Linked DNA regions of Homo sapiens: region 2 is linked to region 1. The links come from fine-mapping of genetic effects on gene expression. Tissue or cell type: lung. Region 1 holds a variant in brackets; the other region holds the start of a gene. All regions are shown on one strand. Distances are from middle to middle. Region 1 holds the start of MIR4329 (microRNA 4329). Region 2 holds the start of AMOT (angiomotin).

Region 1 (10,769 bases):
GTCAATGTAGAAAGTGATCTAAGACCAAACCATGTACATTTTTTTTCTCCAATAAAAACCTTACTGCAGAATAAGATGGAGGTGGGAAGCAGAACATTTTTTTTCTGCCACTGTGTAACTCATATAGGGTGTGCAGATCACTTATCTCAATAAGAAGTGCACACAGAAAGGGAGAGATGAAGTACCATGCAGATGCCAGATCAGTTATATAACTGGATAATAATATCTAGAAATGCTCCTACAATGCAATCTAACACTTTTTTTTTTGTTTGAGACGGAGTCTCACTCTGTCGTCCAGGCTGGAATGCGGTGGCAAGATCTTGGCCCACTGCAACCTCTGCCGTCTGGGTTCAAGTGATTCTCCTGCCTCAGACTCCCAAGTAGCTGGGATTACAGGCACCTGCTACCGCGCCTGGCTAATTTTTGTAGTTTAGTAGAGATGGGGTTTCACCATCTTGGCCAGGCTGGTCTTGAACTCCTGAACTCGTGATCCACCCTCCTCAGCCTCCCAAAGTGCTGGGATTACAGGCGTGAGCCACCATGCCCGGCCAATCTAACACATTTTTGAAGGAACATTTGCTTTTTCTTTCAACAAGTGACTGCTCCTTAAGAAATGGGCGCAATACATTTCTGAAAAGAATGCTTTGCAAAGCTTTGTAAGAAGGTCTGGTTAACTTAATACCTTATCTTCTTTGTCCTGAAAAAGAGGGAGGCCTTTCATCCATACGGTTTTCAAAGCACTTATCATAAATATGGAGGGAATCAAGTCCAACTTTAAGAAAAATCAAATTTACAGTTGAATGAATTCTAGACCCCTGCCCTATCCCTTTCGCAACACCCATCAAGTCTATTTCACTGTGAAAACGTGTCATTTCAAAGTCCTTGGGGATCCTTGCCTCACCAGTCAGGTTTGGAACTCATTGGTAAACAGGAGGCACAGAAAGGGCAGTGTAAAGGCAGCCTTAACATTTTCAGTGAAGAGCCAACTCGTTTGTGGTTTTGATTTGTTTTTAATAACAAGCTCCCTCAACCAAAACTGATGAATTGGCATCAGAACAAGGGTACAAAAGGAATATCAAGGGGCCTTCCAAAATGCTAACCAAAGGATAAATTCTCTGCTTTGGGTGGCCATCATTTTATCCCTAGAAACCAGAAGATAAAAAGATGCAAAGCTTTTAATATATGCTGCCTGAGTATATAAAGAGACCGATTAGAGCATGCGGCCTGTGGTGTTGTCTTAATACTTTATAATCTATAATCACATTCCATACTTCAAGCAAATGCAAATTCTGCTGCACGCTGCCCTTGAAAGGCAATTTCACTGCATACTGAATTGAAAGTAATCACTGATACAGCACAAATAAAGCCTCTGTCGGGTAAACACCAAAGCATTTTCCACACGGTACTGCATTTTAAAATAGCTAACTTTATTGTCAGTGAAAAGATAGGCACAAAGTGGATTTAAACCTGCTTAACTTTATTGGAACTAGCTCAGTTGATTACAGAATGGGGTCACAATCATTAGGGGACCACATACATTTTAAACCAAAGGCGATTCTTCTCTAGCCATCTGCCAACCCCAGCTATCCATTTTACAAACACATGCCATTAATCACAAGGGAGGCCAGAAGGAGGTTTCATGGCTCCATGTAACCCATCGTTGCTACTGGAAAAAAATAAACAAACTCCCGACACTTGTCCTACTGATGATGGATGGCACTTGGAAGACATATTTCCAAGAATCGTGGCAGGCTGAAATTGGTGGCAATTAGCCCACAGCTGATACCTTCCTTTGAAAACATTTTCAGTAAGAATGCACACGTTTTAAGTAACATATTCCATATGCACATAAGCAATTGAGATAATAGGAGACTGTGTAGCTAACAGATATGAGAATATAATTGATCAAAGTTAGTGCATATGTATACACTTTAAGCTGCCGCATTATGAGGGTTTAGGCTTGTCATAAAAAGTAGTTTGCACAATCAATCAGTTTGTTCATTTTCCAATTGTTATACCCACCCAACAGTGTAACAACAAAAAGAGAACATGATGGGTCTCTGGGTATCTTTCCTATGGCAGATGATGGCAGATATTTTAGGTTCCTGCTGTCCTATTACCTTGAAGCTCAAAAGCAGCATTAAAAGGAAATCCTTCATTAAATCAACAATCAAGATACATGATTTTAAAAGAAAGCTCAAGCTACTTTTTATTTCAAAAAAAGACTGTTAATAGGAGTTTCATATCAAGTAAAGTTTGTTCTAATGAAGTTTTTCTATACATGGAACACTGGGGTACAACTGAATTAGAAGGTCCTCAGAGATCACCAAGCAGTACAAGCTAAGACAACCTGGTCACCCTCCTTTCCTGAGGTGCCGGTAAAATGCACAGATAGGTAGGAGTCCAGAAAGATCCCCCAAATGTTATATCCACACAACTGTGAAAAGGTGGCTAATTGAGATTTCTCCCATAAACTTGAATTTTTGGAACAAAAACTAGTGGAGATCTTCTGAAAAGGCTGTATCTATCTTCTGCATAATATACTGACATACTCTTCTTCCCTCTCTTGGATGTACAATGTTATTTTAGCAAATTATCGGGGATTGGAAACTGAACAGAGAAGAACTGTCTCTGGTGTGAGAGGGTTCTGGAAAGTTCAAAATAGTACTCAGCCAAGAACTTCTTCCTTTCCCCAAAACACATGAGTCTAAAGAGATGGCTACCACACAATGTGGAATGTATGACATTTGTCACCTTGCAGAATGTGATTAAAATCATGGCTCCCAGAGCCAGCAAAAAGTCTGCCAATGTGTTATAACCATGAAAGGAGTAGGTGAAAAGTGTTTTTTAAATTATTTGGATAGAAAGTAGCTCTCCTGAAGTTTGCTACTTGCTGCTTCTACTATTTGAGTGTTTTTTTCTCCTTATGACTAAAGGGTAGTATGAAAGAGTCTTAACACAACTGCACTTTTAATTTCTATCTGAGATTCACTTTATAACTGAGGACTAATGTGTATGTAACATGATTACCTCATTATTGAAAATGTGAAAGGACTAGCTGAAAATCACATCACCCTCCTTTATGTCTCTACACACACACAGGCACACACACAAAATAATTCCTTTGGAAGATAATTAGGAAGGATACCATTCCTATACTCACAGAGGAACCCCAAAAGATTATCTAAGATACCCAATCTCCTAGAAAGAAGTGGGATTGGTTTCTCAGGGGGACATTTATGTGACTCTATGTTGAAATGCAGATCAGAAAAGGGAAAACCTTTTAAAAGGCACTGAAGGAGAGGCAAGACAGAAATTCAGTAGTTTGTCAAGACTGGACAAGCTACTCCAACCAGGTACATTTTACAAGATACATATTCCCTGGACCATGAAGATGCCTTTTCATAAAATGGAATTTAAAAAAGATAAAGAGTTTCCCAAAATAAGCATGGTGATTGGCATAATGGTTAGCTGTGTTGTATGACTTTCAAAAAGTCACTGAACCTCTCCAGTTCTCAGATTCCTCATCACTAAAATGAGGAGGTAGGGCTATATTGCTAAAGTTCTTTCCCACCACTATGGCTCATGATGTAATATATCAGGCCTACTCTTCTATTAATCTGGTTTCTAACTAAGACATCCCAAAACCTCTACCCCCAACCCTTACCTAACACCCCCCACTTCCCTCACCCTCCCTATACCCCTTAAAACTGATCTTAATGATGCTATCTGCAGATTTCTCACCTTAATGAAGGGCAGACAGGTGACACAGGGCAGGGACCTGTGGCAACTGGCATCCTTCTGTGTCCTTGGAGGCAGCCCTATGGCAAGGCTTGGAGCCATTGCCTCCTTTGATCTCTACCCACATGCACATTTCCTGCTGCTTCCCAAAGGTATTCCAAGATGGTGTCACTGACAGTGAGAAGAGGTAGTTGAGGATACTGCTGCAATCCACCTCTCCCCCGACTGCAGCATAGTACTTTGGGTTTCTCAAGCTATTCCCTTGGAGGTGATAGTCAAAAATGCCTTTTAAGACATATGCTTAGAATTTGACAAACAAAACAAGTTATTTCAAAGTAGTCACCAGAAATTCAAAGCATTCAACCTGTCAACAAAGATCCTTCCTCACTTTGCAAATGATTGGCAATTTGAGACTGGAGACCCAGCCAGTGAATCTGTGCTGTAGAAGAAATAAACACTAAGCTGATTGGTCTTACTAAATGCAAGCAAGCTGTGTTCATGGCTACACACAAACCATGGAAGTCTGCATATAGCACCCCATGCAACTCTCCATCAAGGCCTCTGATGGTCTAATTCCCTAAGAGAGAGGAAGTTGCGCATCACTCAGTTAATGTACTCTCCCAGCATCTGAAAGCAATATATTAATTATCCAAATGCATAAATTACTCCAGAGCATATATATGAATGTATGAACCTCCAGGAGGGAACCAAAAGAATCCATTTCCAAAGCACCACTGAAATGAAGACAAACACAATTCCCTGGGGCAGGGTAGCTGGGAAACTGGAAGAAAAAATTAGCTCCAGTACCCTTCTGCACCCCAAAACTCCCTACCTTTTTTCCAGCTTACATAGCTCCTGAAACTATTCCCTTTTGTAAGCCTGAGGTGAGTGCTTTCTCCAGCTGCTGCACAGGATAGTAACTATACAAAACAGCACACACTCAATTCTCTCTAGCTTCCCACTTCCAAACTACGTGTTATACACTGTCTTCCACACATACTGTGCTCTTCAATAAAAAATGATCTAGAATATGGAAAATTTAAACAAATTTAAGCACATTGAAAACGTCGATGTATAGCCACCTGTTAACAGTCCCAGTATTCGTATAAATTCAAACAATAAGCTTTAGAGCACATTCTGATTAATCTGTCTTTAGAGGTACTCCCTAAGCATACCAAAATAGACTGGTGTTCACATGGTATTACTCAA[G/C]TAGTACATTGTTCCAATAAAAAGTCCTGTTAAAAAACATCCCCTCCCCACAACCCTTGTCCTCACCCTCAAAACAAGAACCAATAAAAGGGGGAAAATGATTAAAAGCATTTTTGCTGATAATCTGCAGCTCTTGATTTGGCCGTTTAGATGAGATATTCCACCATCTCTGCATCAGGCTCTTGTCCCAGGATCTGAATGGGAGTTTTTCTTTCCAGAGTATTGGAGTGGAACACAGGCCCATCTAAATGGAAATAAGGGTTAGAAAACACTTAGGGATGAAGAAAAAACCCATATTTCTAGAACCAGACACCATCAGAGCCCTCATGAAGCCAATGGCAAAGTGAGACTTGCCTGCCACCTCCCTCATTTACTTCTGCTAAGATAATGGCCTCTACTCATGCCTGTTCCCATCTTGGTGGATGAGAAGTCATTTACAGACTCTCTTCTCTCTCCTTTAGAACGTGAAAAACTCAGTCCAAATGATAACTCTGCCCAGACATCAGACAACAAGAAATAAATCTGTATTTGAGAGCAGAACTAAACCAAAACCTACCTGCTAAAGGGAATAATTACCTGTTTTGTCTGGATTGCAGGTCAAACTTGGTATAGACAAACGATGTGGTCCAGGACCGGTAGCTGGACTTGCAGGAACCTCAGCCTGAGCCACAGCTGGAGTTGGAGTTGGAGCTGGAGTTGGAGCCACAGCCGGAGCTGAAGTTGGTGCCTGAGTCTGAGCAGGAGCAGAAGCCTGAGCCGCTGCTGGAGCTGGAACCGGAACCAGAGCCGGAGCTGGAACTGGAGCCGGAGCAGCTGGAGCAACCTGAACAGCAGCAGCAGCAGCAGCAGAAGGAGCAACGGCAGCAGCTGAGGCAACAGAGGCAGCAGCTGGAATCTGACCAGCAGCAGCTGGAGAAACAGCAGCAGCAGTAGCAGCGGCAGTGGCTGGAGACGGGGCAGCAGCAGCAGCTGGAGCAGCAGCAGCAGCAACAGCAACTGGAGCAGCAGCTACCATGGTGGTGGTGATGGTGGCAGCAGTGGCAGTGATGGCGGCAGCAGTGGCGGCAGCAGCAACTGGAGCAGGAACAGAGATGGGAGCAACAGCTGCAGTTTTGTTCGATTCCGTCCCACGTTCAGTTTGGGTACTGCAGTCTCGGCTGCCTGTCTTGGAGTGAGCCGAGAGCAGGGGAGTCGAGGGTGGCACAGGCGAGGGTGTGGAAGGGACATATTCAGCACGGTAGTCTCCACCCAGGAGAATGCCTACAAATGAAAGAGGAACAGATGTTAGAAAACAATAGGTGATTCAAATCCAGACATCTAATTACCTGTTCTCCCATTCAAATTTCAGAAGAAATTTATTTATTTTTAAATAAGTAAATATTATTTAAATATTTAAAATATTATTATTTTTAAATATTAAATAATTTAGAATAGTCTAAGTTATTTATTTTTGCCTCCAGGGAACCCAGAAATCAGTGTGTGAGGCTCCTCCAACCATGGCTAAAAGTTTCCTACAGACTTCGAGGATCCCTTCTGGTCCTCATCCATCACCTGGCACAACATATTAAGCCTGTAAGTGACCTGGGTATCTGTTTTGATTTATTTTTCCAATGGTGATTGGGTTCCACCAAGTTGTCAGAATGCTCCTACTCGGCTCCACTTATAAACCATTACCACACGTTACCAGGGAGCAAGAAAGGATCTGGGGAAGAAGTCTGTTGACACAGATTGAGTGTGGTAATAATTGTGTGATCTGAGGTTCTCACCATGACCATAGTCCCCAAAATGCTTATTCTAACCAAAAGATATTACAAGTATCAGAGGACCAAGAAAGGAATTAACAGCAACAAAAAGGGTTAAAATAAAAATATATATAAGCTTCCTTCCTCGGGCTCTAAAAATGTGCCTCGTGGTATCCACAATATGTCTGGGGTTTTGATTAGAGGGGAGGGAATGGACAGGAACGGAATGAAAAAGTACATTCTGTTCTCATCTCACAACACTGTGGGAACAAAACCTGCTACCCAAACGATTTAGTGTAACTAAAACTCTGGGTTCTCCTATTATAGAGGAGGAAGGAACACAGAAATGCCGGAATTTTGACATTTGGAACGACACAAAGGCCACATGGGCTTTGGAGAAAGATAAAGGTGCCACATGGCAAAGGCCAAATCTGAGAATAGTTTAGAGGAAATTAGAGTTATCTTCCTTGACACCCAAATGAAACTCAAGATTCTTGTCCTCTAAGCCTTGGCCTCAATCGGTATTCTCACCGGGAGACTTCAAAGTGTGGAGGAGCTCCAGAATGTGGAACTAGGGTCTCAGGAGGAAAAAAAAACTCCAAAACCCTGGTACACCTTCCTCTCTAGAACCTGGACCATCATCCCTTTTCCTTAAGCATGGGTGCTTATCTCAGGGCTCTCTTTGAACACGTGACTATAATCTTCCTTATTTACTGTCATTACCTAGGCTCCCCTTCCAGCTCTTGTCGTCTCGCTTTTCTTCCATGATGGGGGAGCCAGTCAGGGTGGATGAGTGGGAGAGCAAGCCTGATCCAGCATTGGAAATGGACATCAGAGACTTCGCTGGCCGCATGCACGACAGCTGCTCTGTCTTGCTCGGCTCCTTCCGGGAACGCTGCTGGAGTACTTTGATCATGGCATCCTTCTCAATAATCTGGGCATGGAGGGTCTTAATCCTAGGAGCCAAAGGCAAAGAACATATAAAGACCTTGTTGTGGGCTGGGCGCGGTGGCTTACGCCTGTAATCCCAGCATTTTGGGAGGCCGAGGTGGGCGGATTGCAAAGTCAGGAGTTCGAGACCAGCCTGGCCAACATGGTGAAACCCTGTCTCTACTAAAAACACAAAAATTAGCTGGGTGTGGTGGCAGGCGCCTATAGTCCCAGCTACTCGGGAGGCCGAGGCAGGAGAATCACTTTAACTTGGGAGGCGGAGGTTGCAGTGAGCCAAGATAGTGCCACTGCACTCCAGCCTGGGTGACAGAGCAAGACTGACTCCATCTCAAAAAAAAAAAAAAAAAAAAAAAAACCTTCTTGCTACCTCCACATTTTGGTCTAATTGACTACATGACTACGTGGAGCTCCCATTATCTTTTCGACTAAAGGCTGATCTAGTTAGTTCTGAGTTGGAAAACAAGGGATGGTGTGCTACAGTTTTTAAAACATGTTTTTTCTTTTTTCTGCACACCCAAATGGATACAGCAGAGCATCCAGGAGCTGTTGCTTAAATCTTAGTAAGTCACAATAAAGTACCAGTGAAAAAAAAGGCTGAATATGAGAGAATGAACTGATGTACTAGGTGCTGTAGTGAAGAATCTCAGTCAATGGAAACAATTTACTCAGTGAGAAGATGAGATCTATGAATGAGCGACAACCTGCAGGTAGTAAGTAAATGATCATGTGTTTATAAAAGGAATCAGGTATCCTACCTCCACTTTGAGTAGATGTTCTTTTTGTTGTTGTTGTTGAGACGGACTCTAGCTCTGTCGCTCAGGCTGGAGTGCAATGGCATGATCTTGACTCATTGCAACCTCTGCCTCCCAAGCTCAAGCAATTCTCCTGCCTCGGCCTCCTGAGTAGCTGGGACTACAGGTGCCCGCCACCACACCTGGCTAATTTTTGTATTTTTAGTAGAGACAGGGTTTCACCATATTGGCCAGGCTGGTCTTGAACTCCTGACCTCAGGTGATCCGCCCGCCTTGGCCTTCCAAAGTGCTGGGATTACAGGTGTGAGCCATTGTGCCCGGCCGAGCAGATGTTCTTTTACTCTTTTATTAAGCAATCTGCTGTATCACAGGGTTGTGGTGCAGTGCTAGAAAGAATACTCCAGAGTGCAAATGCCAACAATTCAGCTCAGGCAGAGGGAAGAGGAAAAGCAATTAGGAAGGCCAAAGGGACAGAAACCCTACCTGGAATTCCATGTTTAGTGGAGATTATCAAGGTAAAGGTCATTGCATCTCACACCTTTAAGTGACAGGCTGGCAGGGGTGATGGTGGAGCGGGGAGGCTGCATGATCAGATTTCCTAGCTGTGAATAAAGATCCTATGTGGTCTCTATATCAATGTCTCAGATTCCTCAGGGTCCAGAACAACATTTTACCTGCCCTCCATGTCAAGGCAACGCTTATTGGCCATCAAGATTTCTTCCTCCTCTTTCTGGATGCGAGCTTCTAGAGCTGTGTCATAGCTGGTGTTAGGAGAGTGACTGATGACTGTTGTGTCCCTGGGGAGGAAAATGGAAGTGATGAGATGGGAGCATAGCAAGATCAATGAATGTTATCTTTCTTCTAAGTCAAGGAAGGCTTTTCTGGAAAGTCCTAAGCTGAAATCAAGCACATTTGGAACAGATGGTTTCTGGGGAACTAACCCGTAAGAGCCTCCAAAATAGGACAGTTCAGCGTTCAGGGTAGAAGGCAACGTTATTAGTATAGAAGTGGCTGCAAAAGTCAGTGAGGGATGAGATATGCACAGACTTGCCTTCAGAACTGAACAGATATCATCCCAAAACCTTCTGGCAGATAGCCCCTTCAAGTTTTTAGATCATGGCCAAGCAACAGGAATATGTATATATTGGGCCAGGCATGGTGGCTCATGCCTGTAATCCTAACGCTTTGGAAGGCTGAGGCAGGTGGATCATCTGAGGTCAGGAGTTTGAGACCAGCCTGGCCAACATGGAGAAACCCTGTCTCTACTAAAAATACAAAAATTAGCCAGGCATGGTGGTGCACGCCTGTAATCCCCGCTATCTGGGAGGTTGAGGCAGGAGAATCACTTGAACCCGGGAGGTGAAGGTTGTTGTGAGGTGAGATCGAGCCACTACACTCCAGCCTAGGCAACAGAGGGAGACTCTGTCTCAAAAAAAAAAAAAAAAGGAATATGTATATATTTCCATTTTATTCTCCTAGAAGTCATAGAGGGGGAAAGGTCAGACTTTCAAGAAAGTCAGAGGGTATACTAAGTAACTTATGGCTACAGATGAACATTGGTAAATACACCTGAGTACTAGAAGCAAACAACAGACACATCAGCTAAGATTAGGTAGGGCATGTGAGCTAATAAATAGTGCCTTTGAGTCAGTCCCACTCGATTCCTATCTAATCTACATCTGAAACATTCTAGCACCAAATCAATGGGTCTACCCCAACAAAGTGACTGTTCTCTTGCCAGAGTTCTAACTGCATAAAGGACCATCATGTTCCATTTGAAAGTGTCTCAGGCCATTAACTCAAAGACCAATTAATAAGGAAAAACATGTGTGTGTGTGTGTGTGTGTGTGTGTGTGGTGGGCGGGTGAGGGAGGTTATTAGGATTAGGGAGAATACTGATGCAATTATATTGGTCTTCAAGGAAATCAGACAATAGACCGAGAAAACAATGAACTGGCACTGCTTCATTATACTTCCTAAGAGAATGGGGATCTGCAAGAGAACTCCAGGCATGTTTTCTGTTGGGAGCTAACTATGTTCTCTTAGCTTCAAGATTATGTCTAGTGCAGATGGGGATGAAGCGGCAAGAAAAAGAGGCAGAAAGTTGCTATTAAGATTGGGGATTTTGGTGAGCCTCTATAAAATTACTGTTCCCCAAAATATACGTGTACCTTATATGCAAGGTTGAAACCATTTATGGAATGATGAAATAATTGGAGAACAAGAAGGGGAAAGAATACAATGGCTTTCATCATTTGCCAAACTCAAAATATTTTACCATCTCAGCATTCTATACTTTCTCTAGTGCAATTCACTGGCTTGTAGTCCTACTGGGTACCCAAGAAGAAGCAGCATTTGCATAGTGCTTGAGAGC
Region 2 (10,769 bases), 62 kb after region 1:
GTTTCCTGAGTAGCTGGGATTACAGGCATGCGCCACCATACCCAGGTAATTCTGTATTTTTAGTAGAGACAGGGGTTTCACCATGTTGGTCAGGCTGGTCTTGAACTCCTGACCTTAGGTGATCCGCCCGCCTCTGCCTCCCAAATCGCTGGGATTACAGGTGTGAGCTACCATGCCTGGCTAATCCATCAAATCTTAGAGATCACATGTATACCACACCTTTGTTATCAAAGGAAAATTAAAGAACTATGAAATTTGACTACATGGTGAAGACCTCAGATGAAGAACCCATTATGTGTGGGCCATTCTGCTGCTGCACTTCTTGTCTTTTATTTAACTGTCTAAAATCCTTAGTTTCTTTGCTATCTTTTAGTCTAATTTAAACATATTATTTTCCATGCTACAAAACAAGTATATTTGTGCTTTCCTGCTTCTCCTTTCTCATTCTGGAGATTTCATATTCCACTCAAATTTATACTCACTTGATGGGATTTCACCATACAGTGACTTAAAAATCATTGCCAATGATTTACACAAAGTAAACAGTGGACCCTAGTTTTGTTGTTGTTGTTGTTAACAAGAATGGGGGAGGGATAACAGGAGGTCAAAGGAATTAAATTAACAGCCTTGCTAGATACATGAACAACTCCTGAATCACAGAGAGTGTTTAGGGATTACTTATTATATCCATTAGCCTCTCCTGGCATTTGAGAAACAAAATATATGGGAGTCTTCATGTGTCCTCGGTCAGATTCTGACTTAGTTCCTCCACATGGGTTCACAAAGTTAAGTCTTGGGTGGGCTCTTATTGAAAAGCAACATTGTATATATCTGTGGCTCCAATTATCTAAAACTCATGTTAGTACAGGAACCAGGACTTGAAAGGAACTAGAAAAAATGAAAGCAGGTGATCTCTTAGGATGATGGAATTCTTGAAGTTTTGGACAGAGTCTTAGCTTCTTAATTTTGGGTTGTTAAAATGTAAAACATAATGCATCTATATTCATATATCCTTACAGGATCTTTTTTTCTTTAACATGATGACTAGATGATTGAATTTCTAACAACTGTTGCACTTCATTCTAGTAGCAATCATTCACATTCATACTAGATATTGAGGCCTAGAAAGAAAACCATAAACGTATAAGAACTGGCTCTCAAAATTACCCTGTCCAAACCCATAATTTACAGTGGAAAAAAAAAAACTTAACAGAGGTAGTAAACCGAGTTACAGTTGGGCCTAGAGCCCAGGTCCTTCTCACCAATAGGCTCACTAGGAAATCTTATTGCAGATTCTTAGGTTAAAGTGGCATCAGTCGCCATTATTTACTAGAAATAACTTTCTGGATCCCTGGGTTAGTCAAATACAGTAGCTGGAAATAAAACATTTTACCTATATGGGGTGGATAGTCTCATCCTTAGAATTGTTCAAAATCTATAAAGTCTGATTTATTTTCAAAAAGTAATACTAGCTTTCTTCTGCAAGCAGTTGTAGGCCAGAGCTAACGTGGCCAGCATTATTACAAGCCAGAATGATTTAGACAATTAACTAACTCCATTCCATATAACAAAAAGATTTCAAAGGCCAAATAATGGCCTCACTTAATTTAAGCGATAATCATTACAAATTCTTATGTATTCCTTTATGCAATAAATATGCTTCCGAGAAGGCCCAGTTAGAGTGAATTTTTATATATCAAGTCATAGTTTAAAGGCACTAACTAGGAAAGCTAGTACTTACAAAGAAAACCTGTTGTGGATTCTTTTATAAAGCAAATGACCTCCTATTTTCTTTCTTTCTTTTTCTTTTTCTTTTTTTTTGTTCAGATTGTGTGTGTTGTGTGTGGAAGGGGCGACTTCCCTCCTTTCTCTGGGTTAAAAGGGGTCAGAAGCCCACCATGGAGGAGAGTAATGCAGTATGGCCAGCCTGTTTAATACCCCCTTAGTTCCTGGGACAAAATTCTAACCTTTGACTTGGGGGTGGAACCCTAGAATTTGGACCAAAGTCCACAAAAGGCAGCAAGGAGGGAAAAGTAAGTAAGACTAAAGACAACACATCATAGTAAAACACCAACAAAAATTCCTGGGGACAGGAAATCAATGGATCACAATTCTAAACAAATTGGTTTAGTCCCCAGCTAATTAACTTGTCAAGCAGATCACTAAACCTACTGAATCCATGGGAGAAAGAGATGATGTAATAGGAGATTTGGAAACATTTACCCATTTACCATCCTAAAAGGCTCCAGTACGACCACACACACCTCTCCCCACCCCTTTCAGTGTTTAAGCTGGGCTTAATGGGTGCAAAGGACAATTTCTACCAGACAGTCCCCAAGAATAGACTGTTCTCATGCATTCCAAATGCTCAGTCTCCATGGAGGAGGCTACCTGGTCACAAGCATTTCCCAAGAGGGAATATATCCTCTATTCCTCCTCATTGGTAACAACTCCCCCACTCCACCCCCACGCCCCAAACAAAACAAAACAACTTCTAACCATCCTGAGAACTTCAGGGGACTTTTCTGGGGTAAAGGAAAAGAAGCGTTAAGAGGGGAACAGGAAAGTGTGAGAAACCCCTCTTGTCTCCAAATGGAAAAAAAGGCCTTAAAAAGCTGGATCAAAGGAAGAAAGGGGGATGGGGAAGAAGGGCCGCTTAATTACAAAGACACCCTTTTAAAGAAGGCGCAGGCCCTGGGAGAGGGCTCTTGGGAGAGGCACAGAAGCAGATGTACCCACTTAGAATTCTGGCACTCAATGGGACCTCAAGGTCATAGTATCCATCCCCCTGCCTTCTGATTAGGCTATTCTTAAAGCATTCTAGAGTCTGATGCAGTCTTTACAAAACCTCAGAAAGAAAAAGCAACTCTACAAATGTCCTTGTTGGGAATTAGTCTAATAAATCAAACTTCATAAACCAGAAATGAAATTTTAATTTCCAAATCCAAAACTGCATTGACTATGAATTATTAAAATTCCCTTTCTAAAATCTTTTAAATAGGTAAACAGATCCACAAATTTCATGTAAAAGTGACTCCACATACAATTGTGGTCAGAGGTTTACTTCACATCTAGACTGTGAAGGTAGAAAAAGCACTTACAATTTTACAAAGCCACGAACTTTTCCAAGGAAAGAAGTAATTTAAAATGAAGTATGATGTAGTGCCAGAAAGTGTCTGTCAATGACGCCGGATAAACCCATACAGAATAGTTGGAACCTTAGTTATCATCTGTAAATAGAGGCAACTACTCTACAACCACCTGGCTGTTAAAATGTCCCAGGCCAGTTATAAAATGTAGTTTGGTCAGGCCAGCTTTTCCCTCCCAGCTGATCTGAAACAGGATAGCCTTTAAAATTGTCGCCCTTCTCTACCTTCCTACTTTCCTTTCACTCATTAAAATCAACCAAAGTTATTTTAAAATGTATGTTAATAATGTGTTCCCAAATAAGCAATGGGTTAAGGACATCTCAGTAATAAGTCTTTGAACACCATCACTTACAGGCTTGACGCACTTGTCCAATTGAAGATAGGTGGGAGATGGATGAAAATGTATACCACATCCAAAATGGCATTTCAAACTATTCTTAGCTACTAAATGAGGGTGCTGAAAGGTCTAACTGAGAAGGCTTCACAAAGGCTGGCCTGAGAAAGAACTTTTCACAAAGCCTAGCTCAAGGAGACTTAAATATCCTTAGCCCTTCATCATTGAAGATTATGGTGACTAATTATCTTCTTCTCTGAATGGGAGAAGAGGGTTATATTCATAAAAGTTTTAAACTGCCTCCCAACGTCCACTCTTCATGGCGGGGAGGGAGGAGAACTTCATGCACTAAACATCCCAGGTTGTTGAAAAGTTCGTTCTAAAACATACACTAGAGATTGAAAATGCTGTTTCTCACCAACTTTCTCTTTCCTTGCTCATTTAATTCTACTTAGTCCCTTTATGCAAATTATTATATTATTATTAGTGGCAATCTACCAGGAACTGCTCACAGTCTATTAAAGACTGTTATTTTCCCTCCCCCTTTTCTTTCTCTTCATTTTCACAAACCCATGAAGCCCATCTTACTGTTGAAGCACCAATGTGCAGTGGCCCAGGCTTGGACCCTCAAGACACCCTCAAGATCCCCCAAAACTATTTACTAACATCTTTGGATCTTCTAAAGCAGATAGGGGCAACTCCCTCCTCACCACCACTATCACTACCACCACAAGCACTACCACCACCACCACACATCTCAAAGAGTAGCCTTGTTTTAGATTACACAGACTTTAAAACTTCAAGAATTCACGGTCCTACCCCTCCTGCTCCCGCCTCAGGGAGTGTGAGTCCCCACCCCAAGCCTAAGCACTTAGCAGAAACCTATCTAGTTATCTGAGATAAGCACTGACATGCATGCTGGGCTAAATGTAGATTTCAGCTTCCCTCGGGTCTTTAGCTCCTCAATGTGATTAATTACCTAGAGACCCACAAGAACCCCAGGAGGTAAAGAAGTAAAAGTACCATCTAGTAGTGGTACCCACTAGCATCTCCTCACCGAAGTAGGACGGGAAAGCAGCGCACACTCTAACCGATTTAACTTGCTGCACATCCAAAAAAACTCATGGCGAGCTGCAAAGAAAGTAGAACACACGGGCATTCCCACACGCGCCTAGATCGATTCACTCACGCCGAGGGCACGACCAAGTTCATGCCACCATGGATTCCTGCCCCAGTTCCCCGCGAAAAGTAACCACGCGTCTCCTACCCCTGAAGGCAAAGAAGACAAGGTGACGACTCTCTGCTCGCTCAAGTGGCTTCGGTCCCGGGCCAGCGGCCAGGGATGGGCAGGGGGGAAGCCCCAACTCCCGGCTGCTCCCCTCCTCGCTGCTCCGTCCGGGCTCTCCTTGGTGGCAGCGGACAGGCAGGATACCGGGCCAGAGGGTGGAGCAGCGGATAGCCGGAGGCGAGACTGACTGGAGGTGGTGGTAGTTGAGGGGGAGGCGGAGAGAACTAAGAGAAGAGGAGGCGAAAGAGAGCGGAGATGGAGGAGTAATTCAGGGGGTCTACCAGTTTAGGCAGCCAGAAAGCTCCTCGGAAGGAAGGGGCGTGACTGCCAAGGCAGCTCCTGGGCAAAGGATGGGAGGTAGGGGAGGGGGACGAACGGGTGGCTTTTCTTCTTGCGGTGAGCGGCTAGGACCGCCCCGGAGCAGGGCGGCGGGAGGGGTGGACGAGGGAGGAAGGCGGAGTAGAGGGCGGGGAAAGAAGGGCGGGAGCCTGCCTGGACCCTGGAAGTGAGGAGTGAGGGGAGCGCGGAAGAGAGGCGGGGCCGGGGGGCGTGGAAGTTTCAAACAATTGAACCGCGGGGTCCGGGAGCTCGGGCGAAAGCAAGGGACCCTCGCTCTCGCCTTCCCACTAGAGGGGCACGACTCGGTTGCCGTAGCCGTGAGAGTCTGCGCGGGGACTGGCTGGGAAGAAGGAAAGGGTTTTGCAAAAGACTACAATAATAATCTGCGGCAACAGCGCGGCATAGACGCGTGGGAGAGCCAGTGCAGCTCCCCGCCCCACTGCGGGAGGAAGAAAAACAAATAATAGAAATGCTGAAAAGCAGCTTCCACCAAAGCCTGCTTAAAATAATGCAGGAAGGAGAAGCGCTCCTTCGTTTTCCTTCCCCTCTTGCTTCCTATTACCAGCAGGCCCCCACCCAGGTCACAGCTCTGCGAGACACCCTCCTTTCTTCCTCCGCTCCCCCGCCCCGGGCGCTTGCCCCCCTCCCGTTGGCGGGCCGCAGAAGCTGAGGGGCGAGGGAGGAGGGGTCGCGGGCGGCGCTCCGCGGAGGCTCCGCCCCTGGGCGGGCTGGGAGCGCCGGCCTGGGCGGAGCGCGTCCCTGAAGCGTAAGTCCCGCCCACCATTCTTTTGCAGCTACCGGTTGGCCCAGCCTGGCCTAGTATACGCTTGCGATTGGGCCCTGGAGTCGCCAGTCTGATCCCTTTGTCCCACCCGCCCTCAAAATTAATAAAACTAAACAAGAGGCTATTGTGTAGTTCTATGTTCTACCCCAGCTACTGCTGGCAAGAGAAAGATGAGACGCTTTATTTCTCAGTCTCATAAAAGAGTGCAACAGTGTGTCGGCCGACTCTGGTACGCCTTTATGTTTATGGCACTGTCCAGCTTTCTGCGAATAGGTAACTTTTCTTCCCCCTTAGTTTATTAAATCAGGAGGGGGGAAAGTACATGAAGTGTCATTGTGGTGTTCTGCTGACTGTGAAAAAAGCTGACATTGGTTAAAAACGAGAGGGTTGAGAACAGCATCCTGGGACACGGAAAATCTACCATTTTACATCTAGAAAAACGAAGGCACAAAGAAACAGTGTCAGGGTAGCAAAATAACATGGAATTTGGAACCAAAGGAAGAATTCATTTGGGGCCCTGGCACTTACTAGCTAATTGTATGACTTCTGTTAAGTGGCTTAACTTCTCAGCCTTAATTTTTCTACCTGTAAGTAAATGCTGTAAGACATGCCCTATTAACTTAAAGGCACTGGTATGAAAATAAAATGTGTGTGAAAACTATAAAGCACTCCACACATGTATGTGTTCCTACTTGTGTGTGAAACATAATGGAGAGTCTTAGATGTGTTAGAGGATCAATATTTTGCTCATCTGTTTTAAGCATTTACATCCAAGGTCGTGTAGGTTTTGTGGCTTTATTTTAAAAAGTCAACTCTTTTCCTACAATTTTGGGGGTGGATATGAAGTTGACTCCCTGCAGTTAGAATAATAAATTACCCCTTTTCTAAGCAGGGTGGGTGAGATTTCTTTTTTAAAGTTCTACAATTTCATGACAACTTAAAGCTATTGTGGTTCTGGTACTGAAAGAGGAAATCATGCTGTGTATCTCCGAAGTGAACTTAAGAAAACAAATATGAAGGAACATTTACCATGGAAACCACCATTCTCTACAGATCCATATTTCCTAGAAAACATTTCAAGTAGGAAGCAAGCCTAAATGTAAACGCCTTGACAGCGCAAGGCCATTATAATGGCTCATGCCAATGAAAGAGTGACATCCAATTCAAGCCTGCCTAATGGGAGCCATCTGGGGGGCCATGGATCAAGGCATGCAAGAGGAAGTGTGCTTAAAGGAAACACTATCACACAGTAAACAGGGGCTCAGAATCCAACTCTGCAGGAAAAGTAGTGGACTATTGCATGTCATGGAGTGTGCAGCATGCTCTGCTAGGAGCTGTGGAAAGATTCAGAAGCAGGAGTGTGCACAAAATGATTCTCGTTATGATTCTGTTTATGTATGAAGTGAGGTTATTTGGGTGATTTTTCATGGAGAAAGTGAGTTTTTGAATGTTCAAAATATGGAGACACCTGGTTTGTGAAGCAAGGAAAGGTTATTTCAGCCTTGTTATTTGGAGTGGACAGGAGAGCTAGATGTGGGGGGGCGGGTATATGCTGCAGGACTACTACCAATCACAGAGGCAAAAGGATATTTGTTAAAATCAATGCTGTCCAAGTGAAAAAAGTTAAACATGCACATGGAAGAATTCAGATAAAACGGTACTGGGCTGGGCACGGTGGCTCACACCTGTAATCCCAGCACTTTGGGAGGCTGAGGCGGGTGGATCACTTGAGATCAGGTGTTCAAGACCAGCCTGATCAATATGGTGAAACCCCTTCTCTACTAAAAATACAAAAATTAGCTGCACGTGGTGGCATGCGCCTGTAGTAGCAGGTACTCGGGAGGCTGAGACAGGATAATTACTTGAACCTGGGAGGCGGAGGTTGCAGTGAGCTGAGATCAGCCACTGAGCTCCAGCTACTCGGGAGGCTGAGACAGGATAATTACTTGAACCTGGGAGGCGGAGGTTGCAGTGAGCTGAGATCGGCCACTGCGCTCCAGCCTGGGTGACAGAGCGAGACTCCGTCAAAAAAAAACCAAAAAACACCAAACAAAAAGGTACTGAAAGACTACAGTGAAAAGTTCTTCTCCACCACTCTGCTCCCATAGTCCCATTCTCTTTATGACTGTATGTCATCTTCCAAATAGATTATTTGCATATTCAAGCATGAGTGCATATTCCCTTTTTGTTCCTTACAAGTGGGATCATTAATCAAGGCACACCTTGCATTTGTTTACTCAACAATGTATTTGAAATATTCTTCCATCTCAGGATAACTATGTTTACCTTATTTATTTTATTATAACTCAATATTCTATTGCATAGCTGTGCCAAAATTCCTTTACTCATCCCCTTATTAAATGGGGATTTGGGAGACAGACACGGTGGTGGCACACGCCTATAGTTCCAACTACTAGGGAGGTTGAGGGAGGAGAATCCCTTGAGGCCAGGAGTTCAAGGTCAGCCTGGTCAACATAGCAAGACTCTATCTCTAAAAAAAATGGAAGCAAATTTGGGCTATTTCCCATCTTTTGCTACTACGGAAGATGCTATTTAAAAAAATCCTGGTAACAAAGGCCTGGTGGCTCATTTGTAGTATGCCTGCCCCTAGCCTTGAAGTTGCCTTCAAAACACTTTTCTAACATGCTTTCCTTTCCCCACAGCGACTTATACTGTGGAGCAATGGAATTGGAGCAATGGAAACCTCTAAAACACTTAATTCGTTTAACATCCGCTCCTCAAACCCTGCTTGGGCATTACTCTTCTCCAAATTTTGATGGAGTAGAGTTAGCAGAACTCTGAACTTAATGGTGAGTCAGGCTGTGTGTGAGTCATTTCTTAACCTGTGGCAAACAGCTTTTTGGTACTTCTGTTTAACCCAGGTCTTCCAAGCCTTCTATCCTGCCATGCAAGACTTCTTTGTTTTCACCCTGAAAACCTTTCAGTTTGTTTAAACCGAGTTTGGATTTAAAGCTGTGCATTGCCTGCACTACTTAAAAGAGAGGGGGAGGGGGAGGCCAACATCAACAAACATCGATTGAGCCGCTATTATAGACAAGACTGAAAAAACAAAGAGGCATGAGACTTAGCTCCTGCCTTCAAGGATATAAACATAAAAAGACAACTAACAAGCATGTGCTAAGTGCCAAATGAATGGTATTGACAGTAAAAGCTGTGGAAGTTAAGAGCAGAGAGTGAAAACTAGTTCCAGAGAGTTAGTTTATACAGCACACTGTGCCACACACATTTAACTAATCCCCACAGCATCCCTGTGTCTTCATATCCTGACTATAAAGTATAGAAAGCCCTCTGGGGGAGACCAGGAGAATTAACCACTAGCTGTAAAACACCTGTGTAAAGACACTGGGTTGCCTAGATACTACACATTAAAAACCTCCATATAACGATATGGAAAAAAGGAGGATCATTTTAAGCTCAGAAGTCAAGATTCCACATCCCAAACTACCTGTCCTATTTGGCCTTTATTTTTTTTTCTTAAAATACACCTTTATTGCACAATAAAAATCAATATCTGTGCTGTACAAAATAAAATCCATTAAAAAAATCAAATGTCTACCTTGAAAACATTACACAAAATGAAATAAGCCAGATACAAAAGGACAAATATTGTATGATTCCACTTACATGAGGGATCTAGAATGGATAAATTCATAGAGATAGAAAGTAGAGTAGTGGTGATCAGGGGCTGGAGGAAGAGGGAGTGGGAAGTTAGTGTTTAATAGTACAATTTCTGTTTGGGATGATGAAAAGGTTTGGAACTAGATAATGGTGATAGTTGTATAATATTTTGAATGTACTTAAAGCCACTGAATTGTACACTTAAAAATTGTTAAAATGGTAAATTTTGTTACGTATCTCTTACCACACACACACACACACACACAAACACACATGCACACACACAAAAGCTAATAACCCTTAGGCTTAGTGTCAGGAGACAATGCCAGTGATAGGGGTTGCAAGAAGGCAGAACCCATGTGAAAGGGGCAGCCTGATCACCACTACAGGGAAATGCAGGCCAATGTGACCACAGCTTCTGATTTTTCAAGAGAAACCAGAAGTCAAATGTTTTTAATATAAAATCTCCAGTGTTTCATGTTGCCAACTAATAAATGTCTTAATTAAAAAATCTTCCCTTTGTGTGCAATATTTTTGTCCAACGTACAGGAAAAGTAGGAAGGAGTGTATAGCTTATGGTCTATTCCCAATCCCTGGCCAGATTCTTCTTGAAGGAAAGATGATAAAACCATAGTGCTTTGCATTGAATGGCATTCTCCCCCACTTACCAAGTGAACCAGGAATATGGAATGTGCACATCTTCCTCTAGTTGCCTAGTGAACAACTAAATGATTTAAATGCATTTATGAACAAAAGCAGAGGCAAGCACGTATACGAGAAAAAATAAATCTTAAAGATTTATGTCTCTATACATAACTGTCCCCCTTAATTCCTCCAAAGACAAACGTTGAGAAACAGCCTTCTCCAGGACACCTCCAAAAGTCAGCCTCCTATTTATTCATAAGGACACACTAGCCCTGTACATGCAGAAGCCAGCTGATCAGAAAATAGCAGGTTTATCTGAACAGGAAAGGAACAAAGGGACACATATGCAATACACGACTTCAGTTAAATGCTCTTCCTTCTGGATTCCCTCCCTCCCCCCTTCCACCCTTCCCAACCACACACACACACACACACACAGCATGCACACACAGTCCAGACACAGGAAGTTTGAAGCCCGATCCATGTGTGGAAAACAGCAATGTGGGAATTCAGGAAACAACACCAGAACTGTGCTCCAAGGCCAAGACCTGCTCCAGCATTTGGGAGCCAAGTTGCTCCTGGGGTATTTGT

The links.
Region 2: AMOT starts here. The variant in region 1 is fine-mapped to the expression of AMOT in lung (TOPMed, PIP 0.91).

What each region holds. Positions count from the first base shown.
Region 1 is chrX:112,773,471-112,784,239 of GRCh38, forward strand. It overlaps AMOT (angiomotin), which reads right to left. Exons shown (of 14, transcript NM_001113490.2): 11 at 9,070-9,192; 12 at 7,416-7,648; 13 at 5,527-6,210; 14 at 1,407-5,194. The coding sequence ends at 5,097. It overlaps MIR4329 (microRNA 4329), which reads right to left and starts at 7,318; the gene lies at 7,248-7,318. RefSeq lists an enhancer at 5,923-6,423. The variant G/C (reference allele first, on the strand shown) is at 4,951.
Region 2 is chrX:112,835,702-112,846,470 of GRCh38, forward strand. It overlaps AMOT (angiomotin), which reads right to left and starts at 5,130. Exons shown (of 14, transcript NM_001113490.2): 1 at 4,751-5,130. LOC107985651 (a long non-coding RNA gene) reads left to right here and starts at 6,025. Exons shown (of 3, transcript XR_001755993.2): 1 at 6,025-6,167; 2 at 8,558-8,704. RefSeq lists a silencer at 5,636-5,975.